2 linked regions of the Homo sapiens genome follow. The protein of the gene in region 2 interacts with the protein of the main gene of each other region in a pairwise test. Each region holds a gene or a part of one and is shown on either strand. Other genes may lie near its edges.

Region 1 (2,808 bases), on a different chromosome or scaffold from region 2:
CATTAATTTTTTGATATGAGTCCTCTGAAGTCCAAAAGAGACATATTGGTCTTATTTGGTATAAAAATCATACAAGAAGCATCGTCAAATATAAAATGCTGTTTGACTTTCTTTGGGCTGTATTTATAGAAATGTCATTGATATGTGCTCCAAAATTATGGGAAACTCTTATAATTCTGAAATAACTTCTGTATGTTATTAATTATAAACTTTATGTTAAATTGTTGTATGCTACAGAAGTAACCAAAATTTACTTGTCAATGGTGGTTTTAATAATGGCCGTCCTGGCTGGGTGTGGTGGCTCACGCCTGTAATCCCAGCACTTTGGAGGCCAAGGCGGGTGGATCACGAGGTCAGGAGTTCAAGACCAGCTTGGCCAAGATGGTGAGACCCCGTCTCTCCTAAAAATACAAAAATTAGCCGGGCGTGGTGGCACAGGCCTGTAATCCCAGCTACTCAGGAGGCTGAGCCAGAGAATCACTTAAACCCAGGAGGCAGAGGTTGCAGTGAGCTGAGATCATGCCATTGCACTCCAGCCTGGGCAACAAGAGTGAAACTCCATTTCAAAAAGAGAAAAAAATATACACCCCTGATTTGAAACAAGACTAGGATACACGGTAAAGAATGTTTATTCACTAAAGTTTTGACAGACTGAAGGCCATTATTTCAGATTGGAAATAGGAAACTTGAACTACACGGACACTGGGTAAAAGAACATGGGTTGAAATTTGCCTGGCAGTAGCCCAAAAGTAAATGGTCTTCGAGGTGCATGTGAAGGAACTGTAGGAGGGAAATGGGATAATTCACATCTCCGCCAATAAATAAATGTAGCCACACTAGCGTGGGGGATTTGAGGTGAGACATCGAAAATACTAAGTCATGGTGAGGGCTGGAAGACAAAAGAATGAATCACTTAATAGGAATGGCTGTGGGGAAGGGCTTGAAGGAATCATCCTCTGACTTCCATGTGAACCGTGAACATTAAACATGGAGAAATGAGGAGCGGCGGCAGATCGGTTTGGGATGCATCTTCAGGGGATGCTGAAACAACAGCAGCATTTGGTTTGCTCTACACCCCTGTCACCCCTCGCCCGCAAGCCCAGGGAGTGGTCAGCAGTGGGGCTTTGTGATGTGAAGCCACCCTAGGGCTGCCATTGGCTGGGACACTGCCTGTATGATCAAACAAAGCTCAAGGGTGTGGCTTTGCCTTGTCACCAGGAGGGTATACATAGGGAGGGCAAGAGCTCCGGGCCACTGAGAAGATTCAAAACCTACAAAAGCCTGCCACTGACATTGAAGAACCAATATATACAATGGACAAACAATCCAGTGCCGGCGGGGTGAAGAGGAGCGTCCCCTGTGATTCCAACGAGGCCAACGAGATGGTAAGACTGTTAGGTTCTGAAGTGAAGGCGAGGGTGAAAGAAAGACACACAGAGCGGGGGCGGCTCAAACAACAACACAGGAATATTGCAGACCATTGTGGAAGTGGGGGGCCCGCTTAATGCCAGAGCCCACCGCCGCTTACAGGCTGGGGTGCTTGTAGGTAGGGGTGGGAGGGGCCTGGGCAGTATGGCTTGCTGCCCGGCAGGATATTGATAAGATGTTCTTATGATCAGGTGGTTTGGCCCTTTTTCTGGTGGAATATCATTGTGGTGTTCCTTAGAACGCTGCCAAGCAAGATATGATAGGGATGTTTCTTCAGTTGGGCCTTTGTCCGCCTTGCGGACAGGTGGTTAGGCAGGATGTTTCTCACGGCCTGAACCCCCATGGGATGTTTCACTTTGACCAAGGTCTGCAAAATAGCAAAGAACTGACAAAATGGTGCAGTTTGGACTCACAGGTGACCCTACCCACGCTCCTCTTCTTCTTCCCCATAGATCCCTACTCTGTGCTTCAACCTTCTTCTTCTCTGGATCAAACCCCTTCCTCAACCCGCATTCCTTCTTCTCATGAAGTCCCCTTGCTATCCAGTCTCTATCCTGTTCACCCAAAATAATGTCCTCCTGGCCTCTCCCTGCTTTCTTAACAGATGCCGGAGACCCCAACTGGGGACTCAGACCCGCAACCTGCTCCTAAAAAAATGAAAACATCTGAGTCCTCGACCATACTAGTGGTTCGCTACAGGAGGAACTTTAAAAGAACATCTCCAGAGGAACTGCTGAATGACCACGCCCGAGAGAACAGAATCAACCCCCTCCAAATGGAGGAGGAGGAATTCATGGAAATAATGGTTGAAATACCTGCAAAGTAGCAAGAAGCTACATCTCTCAACCTTGGGCAATGAAAATAAAGTTTGAGAAGCTGATGGCTGTGTATATCTCTGCCTGTTTTCTGATGGTGGCGGGGGAAGGGAAGGGAAGGGAAGAGGTAGGCATTTGAGAAGGGAGGGATATGAGGTCCTGTAGGGTTGGTGGACAGACCCACAGGTTGACAGTAAGCCAGACATTGTAAATAAGGCCTGGGGGAGGACTGATTCCTAAAGAAAATTTTCTTCTTAAAATTTTATCTCACAGGAAGTGGAGATGTGTATATGTTCACGCAACTGTACCCGGCAGCACATAGTTCTGCTGAATGGACATATCAAAGGTATTCCCATCCCCTTTCCATTTGATATTTTCCTAGGCTAGAAATAGATGCTTTATAAAGAGCAAATGTTCTGTAAAACACAAAGCACAATACAAAAGAAGATAGTAGATGTAGGAGTAAGTAAACGGCAGGAAAGCATTGCTTGTGATGAAATGATTGAAAAGCCAATTCTAAAACAAAATGTTCAATGCATCTTAAATATTTGTTAGTGTTTTAATG
Region 2 (3,500 bases):
GATCGTGCCATTGCCCTCCAGCCTGGGTGACAGAGCGAGACTCCACCTCGAAGAAAAAAAAAAAAAGACCTTGTTTGGTTTCAGTCTAATGTGCTGAGCCCTGACACAGGGGGAAAGGTAGTTCTGTTAGAATGGTGCTTTTCCAGTCCCCGGGCCCCTTACCTCGATGATCCTGCTCCACAGGGGCTGGTGGGAATCTGAGCTCCATAGATGCACCAGCTTATCCTGCCCGCAGGTCACAAACTGGGCCCGACTGGGGTGTGTGGCCAGGCCCCACAGCTCTTCCACATGGCCCTGGTGGAAAGGGAGGACAGCAGGATGGAGACAGCAGCCCTGGCCTTTTCCCACTCAACACTAATGCCAGACAAATGCTAGATGAGCCCCAGCAACTCACCCTGCCCCAGCGGGACCCAGGGAAGACCTTTCCCAGTATGTCTGAAGGGGGCCTCAATTGGGCATCTGAACCCATGCCCTGGTGTGTGACTCAAGGCAAATCCTGCCCCTTCTCCAGGGACCTCTGCTTTCTTCTTTGCACAATGGGAGGCAGGAGGGCATGGTGGCTCAGAGCTTGATCTCAGGGGTCAGACAGGCTGCACCCTGGCCACACACCTCCCAGGTCTCCAGCTCCAAGGATCTGGGAAGGCGCTTCTGGAGTCTGCCTGCATCCAGACAGAGCCCAGAAGTCTGAGGGACCTCATGGAGGGCACTAAACCTGATGGCTCTGACCTTCGGCTTTCTATTACTGACCGAGCGCAGTCATCTAGGCAGGTGACATCTCCTTGGGACCTCAGTTTGATCGCCTGTAAAATGGGGCCAATTGGTATGTATGCCTCATAGCATTCCTGTGCTCACTCAAATCATGGATGGAAAATGCTGGCCAGGTGCGGTGGCTCACGCCGGTAATCCCGACACTTTGGGAGGCTGAGGCAGGAAGATTGAGCTCAGGAGTCCGAGACCAGCCTGGGCAACATGGCAAAACCCCATCTCTACAAAAAATACAAAAATTTGCCAGTTGTGGTGGTGCACACTTGTAGCCCCAGCTACTTGGGAGGCTGAGGCAGGAGGATCCCTTGAGCCCAGGAGACGGAGGTTGCAGTGAGCTGAAATGGCATCACTGCATTCCAGGCTGGGTGATATAATAAATAAATAAAATGCTAAACATGAGGATAATTCAGAGAATGTGGTCACAAAATGGAAATGTCTAACTATTAATATTTATAACAAATTTTTTTTTTAGACGGAATCTCACTCTGTCATCCAGGCTGGAGTGCAGTGGTAGGATCTCAGCTCACTGCAACCTCTGCCTCCCAGGTTCAAGCAATTCTCCTGCCTCAGCCTTTTGAGTAACTGGGATTACAGGCACACGCCACCATGCCCAGCTAATGTTTTGTATTTTTAGTACAGATGGTGTTTCACCATGTTGCCCAGGCTGGTCTTGACTCCTGATGTCAAGTGATCTGCCTGCCTCGGCCTCCCAAAGTAATATTAATATTATGATTAATAATTATAATAGCCAATATAATAGTATGGGCTGGGTGCAGTGGTTCATGCCTGTAATCCCCGCATTTTGGGAGGCTGAGGTGGGTGGATCACTTGAGGTCAGGAGTTTGAGACCAGCCTGACCAAAATGGTGAAAACCCATTTCTACTAAAAATACAAAAATTAGCTGGGTGTAGTGGTACATGCCTATAATTCCAGCTACTCGGGAGGCTGAGGCAGGAGAATCACTTGAAGCGGGAGGCAGAGTTTGCAATGAGCCGAGATTGAGCCACTGCGCTGCAGCCTGGGCAACAGAGCGAGACTCTGTCTCAAAAATGAAAAAAAAAAAAAAAAAGTATAAATATAGTGCTTCCCGGTAGGTGAGTTCTTTAATTGGGTCAGGGGTAAGGAAGGGAGGGAGGAGGCCAGGAAGGGAGGAGCAGGCGTTTGAGCTTCGAGAAGAAATGCAAGCAGACTCCAGCAGGACCTTCCCCAATCCGTGGAGCTGGAGTCTGAGAGGTGTGTGGCCAGGGTGTCTGCAGCTGTGGGACAACCTGTAGGGACACTCACCAACCTGAAGGGTGCCACCCCCAATCAGAGTGGCAGGAGGCAGCACAGTTGGAGCAGGGGCCTGGGGCCCCTCTGCTGTGCTTGGAGTTAAACTCTTGGTTGCTGGATCCTGGGAAGGGGTCCTGGGTCAGGGCCAGGTCAGAGAAGGGACAGAGCAGGGAGGTGAGGAGAACTGGGAGTGGGGAGGGGGAGTGGATGATGCAGGGAAGGCCAGGGAAAGAGCTGGGAAGAGGGGAGGGGTGCAGAGGAGAGAGGCGCACCTGGACCAGCAGTGAGAAGCCTGTGTGCACGGAGCCCTGCAGGATGGAATTGCGGGTGGTCCCCACGTACAGTGTGTCTCCGTGGCCCTCTGCCACGGTGCGCACAGGGCCAAAGTCCTCAGGGACCTGGGTGGACAGATAAGAGGGAAGATGAGTAGGATGCACACGGGTGGGTGTGGGGTGACATACTGTGGGGAGGAGGGTCTGGCGTTGGGAGCCCTGGTGAGATCGGGGGGGGCCTCTCTACCCCCATCTGAGCCCACTGCCCCTCCTCACCTCCACTTCCTGCAGCTTGCTGTAGTCAGAACCCCAGAGGACCACCCGCCGATCACGGCCCCCTCCAGACACCAGCGTCCCGTCCCGCAGGGCGCAGAGCCCAAACACGCCGCCGTCGTGGGCGCCCAGCACCGCCTGTGTGATACGGTTCCCACCTGCAGGGTGGCCAGGGGCAGGGTCAACAGGGAGAAGCCACCCCTATGCTGACCCCTGAAAGCATCTTGAACTCTCAAGCCTATGTCCATCCATTCTCACCCACTTTTCCACCTTTTTTTTTTTTTTGAGACGGAGTCTCTCTGTTGCCCAGGCTGGAGTGCACTGGTGCTATCTCGGCCCACTTCAGCCTCTGCCTCTTGGGTTCAAGTGACTCTCCTACCTCAGCCTCCCAAGTAGCTGGGATTACAGGCGCCCACCACCATGCCTGGCGAATTTTTTGTTTCTCGTAGAGATGGGTTTCACCATGTTGGCCAGGCTGGTCTCGAACTCCTGACCTCAAGTGATCCACCCGCCTTGGCCTCCCTAAGTGCTGGGATTACAGGCATGAGCCACCATGCCCGGCCCCACCTTTCGACCTTTCTATCTGCTCTTCCACCCACCCAACCACCCAAGCACCTGCCACCTACCCACTCAAATACAATACCTTATCATCTATTCATTAAACCATCTGCACTAACATCTACCCATCCACCCATCTACCCTTTGACCCATACACCCACCCATCCATCCATCCACTCACTTATCTACTGGTCTGTTAGATGAACACTATCGACTCATCCATTCATCACCCATCCATCCACCAGACTATCTATCCATCCATCACCCTAGCCATTCATCCACCCATCTCTCTACTGATCCATCCAGTCAGCCACCCTGCCATCCATCCATCAACCCACCTCTCATCCATTCATTTGCCCT

The links. Proteins that work in one complex are often made in the same cells at the same time.
Region 1: the proteins of EML2 (region 2) and SPANXA2 interact in a two-hybrid assay, tested with the Homo sapiens proteins (one large-scale study listed by BioGRID).

What each region holds. Positions count from the first base shown.
Region 1 is NC_000023.11:141,588,455-141,591,262, forward strand, and holds SPANXA2 (sperm protein associated with the nucleus on the X chromosome A), read left to right. Parts: upstream 1-1,253; 5' UTR 1,254-1,313; coding exon 1,314-1,385; intron 1,386-2,032; coding exon 2,033-2,254; 3' UTR 2,255-2,308; downstream 2,309-2,808.
Region 2 is NC_000019.10:45,618,898-45,622,397, forward strand, and holds part of EML2 (echinoderm microtubule-associated protein-like 2), read right to left. Parts: intron 2,741-3,500; coding exon 2,586-2,740; intron 2,436-2,585; coding exon 2,310-2,435; intron 295-2,309; coding exon 163-294; intron 1-162. UniProt on the Homo sapiens protein: Tubulin binding protein that inhibits microtubule nucleation and growth, resulting in shorter microtubules.